Regions from separate parts of the Homo sapiens genome. Here region 1 is linked to region 2. A link means that fine-mapping ties the variant in region 2 to the expression of a gene that starts in the linked region. Tissue or cell type: whole blood. Region 2 holds a variant in brackets; the other region holds the start of a gene. All regions are shown on one strand. Distances are from middle to middle.

The links. PIP is the estimated chance that this variant, and not a neighbour inherited with it, causes the effect.
Region 1: TMEM120A starts here. The variant in region 2 is fine-mapped to the expression of TMEM120A in whole blood (TOPMed, PIP 0.94).

Annotation. Positions count from the first base shown.
Region 1 is chr7:75,991,217-75,999,317 of GRCh38, forward strand. It overlaps TMEM120A (transmembrane protein 120A), which reads right to left and starts at 3,379. Exons shown (of 12, transcript NM_031925.3): 1 at 3,274-3,379; 2 at 1,223-1,341; 3 at 928-1,044. The coding sequence starts at 3,354. It overlaps STYXL1 (serine/threonine/tyrosine interacting like 1), which reads right to left. Exons shown (of 9, transcript NM_001317785.2): 9 at 5,126-5,383. The coding sequence ends at 5,252. RefSeq lists silencers at 1-109, 3,101-3,160, 3,171-3,620 and an enhancer at 860-919.
Region 2 is chr7:76,218,894-76,226,994 of GRCh38, forward strand. All of the region lies in intron 1 of SRRM3 (serine/arginine repetitive matrix 3), which reads left to right. Among named protein-coding and RNA genes, the nearest start is that of SRRM3, 21 kb to the left of the region's middle. RefSeq lists enhancers at 3,897-4,397, 5,736-6,240 and a silencer at 6,585-6,785. The variant C/G (reference allele first, on the strand shown) is at 4,375.

The DNA of each region.
Region 1 (8,101 bases), 230 kb before region 2:
GTGCACATTCCACCGCCCCCGCCCGCCTACTGGGCTCAAGGCAAGAGCTGCAGCCCAGCAAAGCCTCTGATCTCTTGGCTGCCTCTCACCTCCCGCCCCGACCTCTGGCCACTACAAGTTCTCATGGCCCGTCCACCTGCTGCTACCTCTCGCCCTCAGCCCATGTGTCTGCCTCATTTTTTTTATTTATTTACTTATTTATTTTTTAAGACAGAGTCTCACTCTGTTGCCCAGGCTACAGTCCGGTGGTGCGATCTCAGCTCACTGCAGCCTCCGCCTCCCGGGTTCAAGTGATTCTCCTGTCTCAGCCTCCCAAGTAGCTGGGATTACAGGTGCATGCCACAATGCCCGGCTAATTTTTGTATTTTTAGTAGAGATGGGTTTTACCATGTTGCCCAGGCGGGTCTTGAACTCCCGACCTCAAGCGATCTGCCTTGGCTTCCCAAAAAAGTGCTGGGATTACAGGCATGAGCCACCGCGCCCAGCCTATTTGTTCTTTTTAAATAAATAGAGACATAGGGTCTCAGTATGTCACCCAGGCTGGTCTTGAACTCCTGAGTTCAAGTGATCCTCCCACCTCCATCTCCCAGAGTGCTGAGATTACAGGTGAGAGCCACCACGCCCGGCCCACTCTTTATTCTGTAAGACTCAGCCCACCCATCCCCTAATCCAGGAAGCCTTCTGCGACCTCCTGGACTGGGTCAGGTGTCCCTCACTGTGCCACCTCATTCCCCATGCTACAAAGCACCTATCACAGTGAAATGTCACTCTCAGCCAGGTGTCTCCCCTGAAGTCAGCACTGTGCCTCATTGCTCAGCCTGTACTGGGCCCAGGGAACATTTGCTGACTATAATGACCAAGAGGAGGCAGCACCCGGCTTCAGGAGTGGCTGTGAACTGAGCTGGGGGTGGCGGTGGGGGCCCTCACCCATTCTTCTTAGGCAAATAGGCCTCCATGTCAAAGAAGAGGCCTTGGCGCTCTTTCATCTGGTTCTCCAGCTCCTGTGCGGCCCCCTCGGCCTCTGCTGGGAGGGAGGGTTTGCATCTGCGGGTAAGGCCAGAAACAGTCAGGGCAAGAGGACTCCCAAGTGTCCTCCCTGACTCCCACAGGGGCAGAAGGGCAAACAGGGCCCAGAGAGGGGAGGGGCGGTGCCCAGGGTCTCACAGCGCCAGCCCTCCCACCCCACACTCTGCCCATGGCGGGTGGGGTAGGGGATCCTAACTTCTTCAGGGCGAGGGCCAGCTCCTGGAGCCGCTTCTTCTGCCGCGTGATGGAGCTGGTGCAATTGTTCTGAAGTTTGGTCAGCTCCTCCAGCTTCAGGCGGTAGAGCCGATGGGTCTCCTGGGGGCCGGAGGGGAGAGGCTCAGGCCAGTTGGGGAGCTACTGAGCCAGAGCCTGCAGGCAGGACGTGGCGCTCAGGCTCCCCCAGGGCTGCTGGGAGGGTTTCGCTCAGCGGGAAAGGAGGTAGAACTGTGCCTGCCCAGGGATGAGGTGGCTGTCTCCCCAAGGCAGGCAAGGACCTGGGTGTCCTCCTGTGAGCCCAGAGACCCCCACAGCACCCCTCCTCCAAAAACAGACTAGGTGTTTTTGTTTTTGTTTTTGTTTTGAGACAGTCTTGTTCTGTTGCCCAGGCTGAAGTGCAATGGCAGGATCTCAGCTCACTCCAACCTCCGCCTCCCGGGTTCAAACCATTCTTCTGCCTCAGCCTCCCAAGTAGCTAGGATTACAGGCACCTGCCATCATGCCTGGCTAATTTTTGTATTTTTGTAGAGACAGGGTTTCACCATGTTGGCCAGGCTGGTCTTGAACTCCTGACCTCAGGTGATCTGCCTGCCTCGGCCTCCCAAAGTGCTGGGATTACAGGCATAAGCCACCGCACCCAGCCAAGGTTTTCTTAGTCTCAGCCCATCTGCTAGTTGTCCCCACCCTACAAGGACAGACTCTTTCTCCTACCTTGAGTCTGGAGCTTAGGCCCCCAGGGCCACCTCCTGGACCAAGCAGGCAGCCCAGAGCCACCCCTCTATCCTCTCAGCTCCTCCTGCCTATCTAGCCTTCCAGTACAGGAGGAGCTCAGGTTCTCAGGAATCCCTGACATCTTCTTCCCAGGTTAAAGGTCATCAGGTTTCAACCCTAGAGCCTCCTGCTCTAAGGCCAGCCCCACTCCCTTCCCCTAGCACCTTTGGCCCAAGGATTCCCCAAGCACTTTGCCCTGGTAGGTGAGTCTCAAGAAGGCGCAGCCTAGAGATGGGGCAAGGGGCAGTGTGAGGAGAGCCAAGCAGGGGCTGTGGCCAGGACAGCGGCGGCCAGGCGGGGAGACTGGGTCTGCTCAGTCTCTGGGGAGAAGCACCAATGGCAGGGGCCTTGGCAGGGCCAGGGGCAGCTGGGTTTCAATGCCCACAGGAAGCAGTTGGAACCAGTCCAGGAGAGGCCAAGGGCTAACCAAGCCATCAGCTGGCCAGGGCTCTACTCTGTCTGGATCTTGTTTCTCATGCCCAGGAGGGGTCACCACGCCCCCTCGGACCCCAGCACGTGCCACTTCTGCCCACCCACAGCCACCGCCCTCTTCCCTGCCTGGATGAGGCCAACAGCCTCCTCCTCCCTGGCCTCTGGACAGAACAGCCACGGTGGCCCTGGGGAGCTCAGTCCAGACAATTCCTCCCGTAGCTTTCCACTGGCCTCGGAGGGACTCTGATCTCTGCCAGGCCAGAGCGTCCCTGCAGGGCCTAGCCCCGCCCACCCCTCCCACCCGTCCCACCCCTCCCCTGGTTCTCCTTGATGCAGCCACATGGGCCTGTCAAGTCCCCTCTTTCCTTCCAAAGGCCTCGGCGGCGCGCGGTATCCCTCTGCCTGGGGCGTCCCCCATCCAGGCCGAGGACACCCCCCTAAACGCTGCTCCCCCGACCTGGGCTGCCTCTCGGGCGCTGCCCGCTGCGCGTTTGCTGAGTGGCTGACCCAAGGCTGGGCCCGCCCGTGTGTGACTCAGGCGGCCGCTCTCTTCTGGGAAGGGACGGGGTCGGGGTCTGGGCCCCTTTCCAAGGCCCTCATTGGAAGCCGAGGTCGCCCAGCGCGATGGGGTCCCGCCGGGGTTCCCGGACACTGGAGGTGGTGGCAGTGGACACCAGGACCAGGGGCCTCGCCCCCCTTGGCAGTGACGCCAGGGCCCCGACCCCTGACCCTTAGCTCCCCACTGCCTGACCCAGGGCTGCCCGACCCTTGACCCTGAGCCAGCGAGACGCGGCTCGGGGGCGACCCGGCGTCCGCAGCGGCGCTAACCTGGATGTTCTGGAAGTCCTGCTGTAGATCCTCCCAGTCCCGCAGGCAGTCGCCCAGCGGGCCCGGGGGCGGGGGCTGCATGGCTGCAGCGCCAGTAGCCAGTAGTGGAGGACGGCGCAGCAACCCCGGCCCACCCGAGGCTCCTCCGCCACCGCCCCCGTCCGCTTCCGGGCTCGCGCCGCCACGGGCACCAATGGGGAAAGGCCACGCCCCCCACCCCAGCCAATCCGGGACAGGGGCGGGGTATGGGCGGGGCCGTATGCAAGGGCGGTTGCTAGCCCCGGGACTCGCGGCCTGGACCGGGACTGGGACGGCTGCAGCCCCCGGGCCTGGACTGCACTGACTGTGCCAGCCGCGTGGTGCAGCCAGCAGGGCTCTGGCCCGTCATGCTGAGAGCAAACCAAGGTGCAGGGAGGTGACACCTGCTTGCAACATTTTCGTCCTTGGGAAGCTGAGCCTCTTTGGGGAAGGGAGTTAGAGCTGCTTCTCTCGCTTGGATTTTTACAGCGGCCTCCTTTCTCCCTGCCTCACCTCCACTGTCCCTTCTCGCGGCCACCGGACTGCCCTTCCCAAAACACAAGGCTGATTCCCCATCATGTTCATGCTTAAAACTTTCCAGCGGCTGTGTCCTGCCTACCAGGAGGTCCCTAATCGGAGCTCTGCAGCCATCCCGGGCTCTGTCCCAACTCACACCCTGAGGAAAGCCAGGGCTGTGTGTAAAGCCGTTCCCCCTCTGGCAAAACCCCACTCCTCCTTGAAGGCCTGCCCTTCTGTTGAGGGGAATCCCCCACCCCCTCCCACCCCCATCCCTCCACAGAGCGCGCTAAGTGGTGGGACGGCATTCATCTCTCTGTTCCCAGCCCCACCCACGCGGTGGCAGGGAATGGTTGCCGAATGGACTTGGGGAAGGTCCTGCATGGATGGACATCCTAATCCCCTACCAGTCCCCTAGTCTGTGCCGTCTCCTGATGCCCAGTTTGTTCTGTGGGTGCTGCCAGCTTTGGAGAAGTGCATTTGGAAAACAACTTCCAACTGGGTGCCGTGGCCCACACCTGTAATCCCAGCATTTTGGGGAGGCCGAGGCTGGAGGATCACTTGAGCCCAGAAGTTCGAGACCAGCCTAGGCAACAGAGCAAGACCCTGTTTCTACAAAAATAAAAATAAATTAGCCAGGTGTGATGGTGCATGCCTGCATTCCCAGCTACTCACTCAGGAGGTTGAGGTGGGAGGATCGCTTGAGCCCAGGGAAGTTGAGGCTGCAGTGAGCCATGATTGCGCCACTGCACTCCAGCCTGAGAGACACAGCAAGACCGTGCCTCCAAAAAAAAGGAAAGGGGGTAAAAAAAAGGAAAACTTTTAAGACCTTAGGAATTTCTAGAAACGTGGATAGGGAGATGGGGGAGGGGGTGAGAATCTCTCCTTGGTGAACACAGCCAGGCAGAAATGAGTGGGGAGCAGGGAAAGAAAATCTGTTTCAAGGGGTGGATGGCAGGAAGCGCTGGGGATGAGGCAAGGGTGTGATCCCATTCTAGGAGCCTGGGGGCTAGACAAGGCTGGGCTTGGTATCTCTGGGACTAGGGGACTGCCTATTGGTGGCTATTGTGACATCCTCTGTGAACCAACACAGGCAACCTCTGGGTACCCCCAGGCAGCCTCCAAAGGGTCTAAGTCACCAGGGGGATGCAGGGCAGCTGCTCTAGCAGCCAGATGCTCTTCCAGAGGCAGCCTCAGGGGTGCAGTTGGGATGGCCCGCGACACCTCAGGGATGCGGGTTCTTGGTGAACCTGAGCAGGGCGCATCAGCTAGGTGGCGTGAACAGGCACTTGGGAAGAATCAGTACAGGAGGCTAACATGAGACTTTCAGGCAGCAAAGGCCTTCTCCTTCCAGACAAGCCTGGGTATACACACTCTGGCCCTCCACCCACAAAATGCCCCCAGGTGAGGCTCTTCAGTACCCTTCGGTGGGCCTCGGAGAAGATCAGTAGAGCGGATCCATGATGTTTGTGATGGAATCTCCAAGGATAGTCTTCTCCCATTCCAGCAGCTGGCTCACCAATCCCCGATTTGGACACATGTTGTTTTTGCACTTCTTGACATAGGCCCAGGACCTCTATGAATACAAAGAGAGAAAGTGAACTTCACGATTGGTCCTGGGCCCTTTCCACTTGGATCAGAGGCAGCTTTCAGAGACAGGAGGCACTTGCACAGTGCCAGCAACACGGCTTAAGGGCTGGATGCAGAAACAGGGCAGCCTGGCATGAATGCATCAGTGCTGGGAGTCATGGGAGCTGACTCTGCCTTGGGCAAGCCCCTCTGCTTCTAAATCTGGTGACAGAAATAATTCCTATTTCAAACAGCTTCTGGGAAGATTAAGACAATATACATGAAACCACCTGTGGATGGCAAACACTATGCCAAGCCTAGTGCAGTCTCAACAAAGGTTTGCATTGTGACTGGACAAATTAATGGAAAGAGGAAGAGAACTGTGGGCAAATTCTCTGAAGAAGAAAATTCAAGCTGCCCTCCTTCAGGCATCCACCTTAAAGTACAGGAAGTGTTGCTGCATGAAGGAGGGTGAGCACCTGGTCTCCATCTGGATTGAGGACAAACGAAAAAGGGAAAGGCAAGAGTGGTGCCTAAAACTAGGAACAGAAGGAAATGGCCAGGCACAGTGGCTCATGCCTGTAATCCTGGCACTTTGGGGGGCCGAGACGGGTGGATCACCTGAGGTCAGGAGTTCGAGACTAGCCTGGCCAATGTGGCGAAACCCTGTCTCTACTAAAAAAATGCAAAAATTAGCCAAGTATGGTGGCACATGCCTGTAATCCCAGCTACTTGGGTGGCTGAGGCAGGAAAATTGCTTGAACCTGGGAGGCGGAGGTTGCAGTGAGCCGAGATTGCACCACTGCACTCCAGCCTGGGTGACAGAGCAAGACTCTGTCTCAAAAACAAAAAAGGAAGGAAGTGATGTCAACCTGATAAAGGCCATATATGAGAAGCCCACAGCTAACATCACACTCAATGGCGAAAGATAAAGTTTTTCCTCTAAGATCGGGAACAAGGCAAGGGTGCTTGCTTTCATCACTTCTGTTCAACATAGTCCTAGAAGTCCTAGCCAGAACAATGAGGCAAGAAAAAGAAATAAAAGGCATCTACAATGGATAGGAAGAAGTAACCTTACCTCTGGTTTGAAGATGACATGATTTCATATGTAGAAAACCCTAAAGATTACACACACACACAACACACACACACAGCTAATAAATTCAGCAAGGATGCAGGATACAAAACCAACATGCAAAAATTAGTTGCATGTCTATATACTAAACAATTCAAAAAGGAAATTAAGAAAACAATTCCATTTACAGTAGCATCAAAAAGAATAAAATATTTAACCAAGGAGGCAAAAGACTTGTACACTGAAAACTCCAAAACAGTGCTGAAAGAAATTAAAGGTACAAACAAATGAAAAGACATCCTGTGTTCATGGGTTGGAAAGCTTAATATTATTAAGATGCCAATACAACTCAAAGTAATCCACAGGTTTAAGGCAATCCCTATCAAAATCCCAACAACATTTTTTGTAGAAATAGAAAAATCCATCCTAAAATTCATATGGAATCTCAAAGGACCCCATAAAAAATATTTAAGAAGAACAAAGTTGTAGGTCTCACACTTCCTGATTTCAAACCTTAGTCTAACAAAACTACAGTAATCAAAACAGTATGGTATGGACATGAAGACAAAGAGACTAGTGGAATAGAATAGCCAGCCTAGCCTAGAAATAAACCCTTACCTATATGGTCAAGCAATTTTTTTTTTTTTTGAGACTGAGTCTCACTCTGTTGCCCAGGCTGGAGTGCAATTGTGCAATCTCAGCTTACTGCAACCTCCGCCTCCTGGGTTCAAGTGATCCTTGTGCCTCAGCCTCCCAAGTAACTGGGATTACAGGCATGTGCCACCACGCCTGGCTCATTTTTGTATTTTTAGCAGAGACGAGGTTTTGCCATGTCAGCCAGGCTGGTCTCAAACTCCTGACCTCAGGTGATCTGCCCACCTCTGCCTCCCAACCTGCTGGGATTACAGGTGTGAGCCACTGCACCGGGCCTGTCAAGGAATTTTTGATAGTATGCCAAGACCATTCGATGGGGGAAAAGGACAGTCATTTCAACAAATGGTGCTAGGAAAACTAGATACGCCATGCAAAGAATGAAATTGAAAACAGGAAATCAATAGAGAAAATCAAAAAAACCAAAAGCCGGTTCTTTGAAAAGATCAATAAAATCGATACACCGCTAGCCAGGCTAACTTAAACAGAAGACACAAATTACTAATACAGAAGTGAAAGAGAAGACATTGCTACAGATCCCACAGACATTAAAAGGATAATAGAAGAATATTCATATCCACAAATGTGATTGATCAATTCCTTGAAAGACACAGACTGCCAAAACTCACACAAGAAGAAACAGACAATCTGAATAGGCCTACATATATTAAAGAAATTGAGTGGTGGCAGATGCCTGTAGTCCCAGTTACTCGGGAGGCTGAGGCAGAAGAATGGCATGAGCCCGGGAGGCAGAGCTTGCAGTGAGTCGAGATTGTGCTACTGTACTCCAGCCTGGGTGACAGAGCGAGACTCCGTCTCAAAAAAAAATAAATAAATAAAATAACAATAATAAATTGAATCAATAATTAGTAACCTTCCAAAACAGAAAGCACCCAGCCTAGATGGGTTTATTGGTGAATTCCACACATATAATGGAATATTATTCAGCCTTAAAAGGAAGGAACTTATATAAGGTACCTAGAGTAGTCAAATTCACAG
Region 2 (8,101 bases):
GCCCAGGCTGGGGTGCAGCGGCGTGATCTTGGCTCATTGCCACTTCTGCCTCCCAGGTTCAAGCAATTCTCCTGCCTCAGCCTCCCAAGTAGCTGGGATTACAGGCACCAGCCACCATGCCTGGCTAATTTTTGTATTTTTAGTAGAGATGGCCATGTTGGCTAGGCTGGTCTTGAACTCCTGGCCTCAAGTGATCCACCTGCCTCAGCCTCCCAAAGTGTTGGGATTACAGGCGTGAGCCACCATACCCGGCCTGTATTGCTTTCAGTAGCCAGTGTTGCTTGTTCTGATACCTTCCAGCTGTCTGTCATGCTGGTGTGCAGTGTCCCCACTGTCCTCTGTTGATCAGTCGGTCTGAGCTCCTGGCTTGGCTGGGTCTGTCCCATTTACAAGGCTCTGTATGACCTGTCCTGGGCTACATCAATCTGCACTGATCTCACCTGAGCATTGTTACCTGTTCTCACCTGGGCTGCATTACCTGTACTGTGGACTCCTCTGGAGGCAGCAGACAGTGGAGGCCTCCTTGTCCCTCCTTGTCCCTTGTCAGTGATGCTCCAGCCCCCAGCCGGCTTTCTCTTTGATCTCAGCCAGCCCAGCAGAAGCCTGAGGGGATGCCCTGGGCAGCCTGCTTGGTTGCCACCCAAATCTTTGCTCCAGGAACCCAAATCAGAGCCAACAAAGACAGGAGCCTTGACCAGAGAAGTCCTTCCTATCTATTCAAAGACAGGGCTGGGGCCGGGTGCGGTGGCTCACACCTGTCATCTCAGCACTCTGGGAAGCCAAGGTGGGTGGATCACTTGAGGTCAGGAGTTTGAGACCAGCCTGGCCAACATAGTGAAACCCCGTCTCTACTAAAAGTACAAAAAATTAGCCAGGCATGGTGGCACACGCCTGTAATCCCAGCTACTTGGGTGGCTAAGGCATGAGAATGGCTGGAACCCAGGAGGTGGAGGTTGCAGTGAGCCGAGATCACACCACTGCACTCCAGCCTGGACAACACAGCGAGATACTGTCTCAAAAACAAACAAACAAACAAACAAAGACAAGGCTGGACTCGAGGGCTTACAAAGTAGATGACCATGAGGCCCATGCAAATGTCAGCATGCACATAGTCTAGGCATAGTGAGAGCAGTGACCAAGGACCTCTCCCTCTGTAGTTCCCAGAGATGATGGTGGTAAAACAATAAGTAGTGAGCTCCCATCGGTGCAAACACAGGCGGGGTCTCAGCAAACAGTCCCAGGTGGCTGCTCTGTGCCAAGCCCTGTGCTGAGCACTAGGGATACAGATGTGGATTGGCCCAGTCTCTGCCCTTGGACAGCCCTCAGTCAGCCAAGGAGCAACAGTCATGCTAGATTGCGAGTAGTAGCCACAGGGTGACAGCAGAGGCACGTCCCCCAGGGAGTCCTTCCAGGCAGTCAGGGAAGGCTTCACGGAGGAGGTGATGCTTGAGCAGTCTTGCAGGAAGGGTAGATGAGGAAGAACCTTCCAGGCATGAGGAACAGCATGGGTCAGTGCATTCTTGGGTGGAGTGGAATGTGGTGTGGAGCTGGACAGGGATAGCGTAGGACTGGGCACATTGCCAGCTAAGCCACCAGGGCTTTCTCCTGTGGTCTGCAGGCTCGCCCTCTCTGCCTCACCGGCCCCGGACACCCCATCTTGGCCCTGGAAACTTTGCCAGCCCAGCCACCTCCATTGCCCAGCACAGACTGAGACGGCAGGGAAAGGGTCAGCCCGAGTCCTGCCCAGGCATGGCTGGACCCAGCCCTAGACTGAAAAGGGGAGGGCAGAAGAGGGACCACAAGGGCTATGGTCAAAACACAGAGCTGCAGTGCCCGCACCCTTGCAAGCCAGGCTGCCTGCCCCTCCAGGAACCAGCCCTCCCACCCCCAGCCAGCCCCAGCCTTGGGGCTCTGGCCAAGATTTTCCTCCAGCTCCAGCAGGGGCAGCAGGAAGCTCCAGCTGCTGAATTATTGAAAGCAAGGCTTTCAGCAGTTCCCCTCCCCCCACCGCGTCTTCTGGAGGGTTGGGTAACAAACAGCCGTGCCAGCACCAGCGCCTCTCCAGAGAGACTCCAAGGAGTCATGGAGGAAGCTCACTGGGCTCTGCCCGCTCCCTGAGCCACCTCCTCCCAGGCCTCTCCCTGCAGTGTCTTCTTACCCGTCTTTTTTTTTTTTTTTTTTCCAGACAAGGTCTCACTTTGTTGCCCAGGCTGGAGTGCAGTGGCGCAATCTCAGTTCACCGCAACCTCCGCCTCCTGGGTACAAGCGATTCTCCTGCCTCAGCCTCCCAAGTAGCTGGGTTCACAGGTGCCCGCCACCACACCCAGTTAATTTTTGTATTTTTAGTAAAAGAGTTTTGCCATGTTGGCCAGGCTGGTCTCGAACTCCTGACCTCAGGTGATCCACCCGCCTCAGCCTCCCAAATTGCTGGGATTACAGGTTTGAGCCACTGGGCCTGCCCTCCTCTTTTTTTTTTTTTTTTTTTTTGAGACGGAGTCTCGCTCTGTCGCCCAGGCTGGAGTGCAGTGGCATGATCTCAGCTCACTGCAAGCTCTGCCTCCCAGGTTCACACCATTCTCCTGCCTCAGCCTCCCTACTAGCTGGGACTACAGGCGCCCACCACCACGCCCAGCTAATTTTTCATATTTTTAGTAGAGACGGGGTTTCACCGTATTAGCCAGAATGGTCTCGATTTCCTGACCTTGTGATCCACCCGCCTCGGCCCCCCAAAGTGCTGGGATTACAGGCGTGAGCCACCGCGCCCCGCACCTGCCCTCTTCTTACCCGTCTCTACTGGTCTCTACTGGTCTGTGTGGGTTTGTATCTGTGAAAAGTACCATGATTGGGCTATGAGTGTTTGTAATGATTTAAAATGGTAATTATTGACCTGATCTGTTCTGATTTATATGGATCTATATTTCCTCCTGGTCTAACTCATGCCTGTAATGGTTTAGACTGATTGGCATAGTTCATGGCTGATAACAGCTAACACTTAATGCATAGAGCTTATCGCCTACCCAGGCACTGTACACACGTTATTCCTTTACTCCTTACCCTGAGGTGCGGGTACTTATATTAACCCCATTTTACAGATAAGAAAGAGGTTAAGTCACTACGCACACATAGTAAGTGATTTGAACCCATCTGCTACTGGCTGATCGGCACGGGTCTGTCTTGGTTCATGTGGACTGGGTTATCAGTTATCCTTTAAGGGCCTGAGGGCATCAGGTTGCAAGAGAGAGTTGAGCACAGTGGCTCACACCTGCAATCCCAGAGCTTTGGGAGGCCAAGGCAGGAGGGTTGCTTGAGTCCAGGAGTTAGAGACAAACTAGTGAGACCCTGTCTCTACAAAACTTCTAAAAACTAGCTGGACATGGTTGTATGCACCTGTGTGTAGTAGTGGCCAGCTACTTGGGAGGCTGAGGTGGGAGGATCACTTGAGCCCAAGAGGTAGAGGCTGCAGTGAGCCATAATTGTACCACTACACTCCAGCCTGGGTGATAGGAGACCCCGTCTCAAAAAAAAAAAAAAAAAAAAGTTGCAAGAGAGATCTTTCCAAAATGCAAATCTGACCTCCCCAGCTCAATACCCTTCACTGGCTCCCTATTGCCTGCAGGGTGTGGTCCTAGGTCCTCAGCCTGAGTCTGAAGGCCCTGGGGACCTGGCCCTCCCTCCCCTCCTGGCTTAGTGGGCTCAGCAAGACAAGCCCATGTTTTGTTTTGTTTTTTTAATTTTTTTAATTTTTTGAGATGGAGTCTCCCTCTGTCTCTCAGGCTGGAGTGCAGTGGCGTGATCTTGACTCACTGAAACCTCTGCCTCCTGGGTTCAAGCAATCCTCCTGCCTCAGCCTCCCAAGTAGCTGGGATTACAGGCACCCGCCACCATGCCTGGCTAATTTTTGTATTTTTAGTGGAGACAGGCCAGGCTGACCAGGCTGGTCTCGAACTCCTGACCTCCAATGATTCTCCTGGCTCAGCCTCCCAAAGTGCTGGAATTACAGGATTGAGCCACCGCGCCCAGCTTCAAGTCCATGCTTTTCCCTCTTTCCTCTCCATGCCTTCTTCCTGCTCACCCCCACACCCTGACCAGGACATCCTTCTCCTCCTCCTTTGTCCCGCCAACTCCTACTTATGCTTCAAGATCTCTCCTCCAGGGAGACCTCCTAGCTATGCTCCTCTCCTGACGCACCCCAGCTGTTAGATGTCTCTGCCATGCATCCATCATCCCCAGCATGATAAGCACCAGTGCTTCTCCTTCTGCATTTCTCTCGTGTCCTCTGGTGAACCCCAGAGTAGCCACTCACAAATAGCTGTGACCTGAATGAATGACCCAACCCTGAAGTTGATGGGGTGTCTCTTGGTCCTCTGGTCCTTA[C/G]CCCCCCAGCCCCACGCTCTTGGGCAGTGAGCACAGGGGAAGCTTTCAATATAAAGTGTTCAAGGCTGGAGGTCTGCAGAAGGGTCCTTACACAGGGAAGGGAAGGGTCAGCAGGAGAGTGCTCCAGGGAATATGTCCCTGTCATGGCTGCACCTGGCTTCAATGCCAGGATTTGGAGTGGGGACACACCTAGATTCCTTGGACATGATGCAGATGGCTTTTCTTTTCCAGCTTGATAAAGTATCTTGACAAACGATTGTTGCACACACTTATTTTTAACAAGACCCAGAATGAGTTTCACAACTTAAGGACCTGGTTTCATGGGTATTTATCAGTTCTGTCTCGTTTCTGACAGTTGGAAAGAATCTTTTTCCTCAGGAGGCACATCCTTGCCCACCTGCTGTCACCACACTGGGCTTTTTCTCTGGAAGGTCTCATCCTGCGTTTGCAGCCACCACCTTCACAGGAATGCAGTTTCCTGGATCATAAATTCCATTCCACTGTAGCCCTCTTAGCCAAGGGTCCCTGGATCTTAACATGCCCTTGGCTTTTGCCTTCCCTTCCCTTCCCTTCCCTTCCCTTCCCTTCCCTTCCCTTCCCTTCCCTTCCCTTCCCTTCCCTTCCCTCCCCACCCCTTCCCTCCCCTCCCCCAACTTGCCCCCCTCCCCCTCTCCCTTCTCTTCCCTTCCCTCTTTTTTTTTTGACAGAGCATCCCCTCCCCTCCCCCCAATTCCCCCTCCCCTGCCCCCACTTCCCCTCTCCCCTGCCCCCACTTCCCCTCTCTCCCTCTCCCTTCTCTTCCCTTCCCTCTTTTTTTTTTTTTTTTTTTTTGAGACAGAGTCTTGGTCTGTCCCCCAGGATGGAGTGCAGTGACACGATCACAGCTCACTGCAAGCTCCGCTCCTGGGTTCAAGCGATTCCCCTGCCACAGCCTCCTGAGTAGCTGGGAGTACAGGCGCACACTGCCAGTCCTGGCTAATTTTTTGTATTTTAGTAGAGACCGGGTTTCACCATGTTGCCCAGGCTGGTCTCAAACTCCTGAGCTCAGGCAATCTGCCCACCTTGGCCTCCCAAAATGCTAGGATTACAGGCATGAGCCACCGCGCCCGGCCAAAGACACATCTTTCAAAGGCACATGTCTAACATCATTCTCTTCATGAAACCTTCCCTGACCATCCTAGGCAAAGGTAGAGCCTCCCTGGTCTCTTTTTTGCTCCTGCAGGACTGGGTGGGTGGGTGGGAGAATGGCATCAGAATCTCTTCATAACAAGCCTGTTACCGCAAGAAAGGATGAATGAATGATCCCACTAAGCTACAAGCTACAAGACTAGGGAATATTGTCTCCGTCGAGGTATTGCTCCTCACAAGAGGGTATTAGCTACGAGGGTCTGCCCACAGACCCTGACCCAAATGATGAATAAAACGTACACTGATACACAGAGATTCTGTTTTGCCAGTCCTGCTGAGTGACCGCCTACACACCAAGAGAGGTTTGTCACTGTGGCCGCCCCGATCAGCTAGGGAGACTCACATTTATTCATTAAGATTAGTTAACAAAAGCTTGAGTCAGCGCCATTAGAGGTAATTGACATTGAGGACTTCCCGAGTAAAAAGCACACATCAAAGGCTCGTCTTGAGACCACATGAGTAAACAAGTTAACTAGATAACTTCCCCACATCCCGTTATTTACTACTCTAATCTATTTAACTGAAGGTAATGGGACCAGCCCACCTTCGCCCCGGTCTATTACCGAAGTCATGTGAAAACCCTCAGGCCTTCCGAAAGGGTTTTGTGGCTATCATAACTAATATTTTTTCCACCAGCCTGACCGAATCCCAACACTCCATTTTACAGATGAGGAAACTGAGGCTCGGAGAAGTTTAATGACTTTTCCTGATCACCCAGGCAGAAGTAGTGGAGCCAGAATTTAAGCTAAAGTCTTCTGACTCCAAGTCCTTGTCCTGGTCTAACACTCTTTTTCCTGGCCCCAGTAGAAGACAGCAGAAAGATCTTAGAAGTAAGAAGGTGGTTAAATTGTGTGACCACAGACGAAGTGCTCAAGTGCTTACTTGAAGCTGTGGGAATCTGTACCTTTGAGCGTGTGGAGGCTCTGAGTCCTGACATTACCTCTGGGGAGGCATGCCTCTGGCTGGCAAGGCCAGGAAAAAAAAGCCCCTAGAGGAACGGTGCTGCCCCCCTCCCCGCCCCCCCCGCCCCTTTCCCCGGCAAAAGAGGCTTCTCAGCCCCGGCAGCAAATGGGGCCCCCTGAACTGGTGATGGGGGTGCTGTCCGTGGTGCTGGAGGACTGCGACGCTGCCAGAGACAAGGGGAGCAGGGAGGAGTTTGCTCACTCCTGTAATCCCAGTGCTCTGGGAAGCCAAGGCGGGGGATCACTTGAGGCCAAGAGTTTGAGACCAGCCTGGGCAACAACGTGAGACCCTGTCTCTACAATAATAATAATAATAATTAATCTCCAGTGCCTTTTACGAGACATTCATTGCATACTAGGTACTGTGAGGGCATTTCCCATGCATTAGTCCTTTACAACAAACCTATGAGGAAGATGCTATTATTAAATAGTTTCATTTTACAGGCAAGGAAACTGAGACCCAGAGAGTTGAAGTCACGTGCCCTAGGTCTCTCAGCTTATGAATTCCCAAAGATCACTCTCCTGTCTCCCTCTCAAATCAGGGGTCCCCAGGGCAGGGCTGGGCCTCTTCCCAGACTCATCTGTGGTCCACTTCTCACTACAGCCCATTCCCTCTCCCCCAGACCTGACCAGGTCACTACGATCTGAGCATCTTCTCCCTCTGAGCCCCAGGGTGAGTGCTGACCTCATTAGCTAAGAGGCCTCTGTGCCTGTCAGCAGCTGACTTTCCGAAACAGGCTGGACCCTGCAGTACAGATGAGCTGTTTCACCTTCAATTAATCACTTGCAGGTAGCAGCATCCAGTTTGTGGCCCACTGTGTCCACACCCAGGCTTGCTCAGGAAACCCAGGCTTGGGCTTGTGGGAGGGAGGCAACTCCAGGGACCCAGCCAGGAGGCTGGGAAATCAGGCCTCTAGGCTTTTAACCACTTCCTGGCTTGTAGAAGAAGGAGTGTGCCCCTTTGGCAAGCATTAAACTAGGGCTTCATGACTTAATCTACACATGGGTTTGGCTGGCTCCAGCATCTGGGCTTGCCCTTGGGAGCTGACCCAGTGCTGGGGACAGCCTCAGTTGAACTCTAAGGGTGGCCGGTGGGGCCCCGGCTCCTGGCTGTATCAGCAGAAAGGAAGTGGGCTGAAGGTCTGGTGTTATTTATTTATTTATTTATTTATTTATTTATTTTATTTTTTGAGATGGAGTTTTGCTCTTGTTCCTCAGGCTGGAGTACAACGGTGTGATCTCAGCTCACTGCAACCTCCGCCTCCTGAGTTCAAGCAATTCTTCTGCCTCAGCCTCCCAAGTAGCTGGGATTACAGGCATGTGCCACCACACCCAGCTCATTTTTGTATTTTTAGTAGAGACAGGATTTCACCATGTTGGTCAAGCTGGTCTCAAACTCCTGGCCTCAGGTGATCCACCTGCTTCGGCCTCCCAAAGTGCTGAGATTACAGGCATAAGCCACCACACCCAGCCTGGTGCCACACACTTAGAGTTAGTATTACCCAGACTTCCAGAGTAGGAAAGGACCCTTGGGGTCTTTGAGTCATTGTTCAGTGGGAGAAACAAGGGTGCAGAGA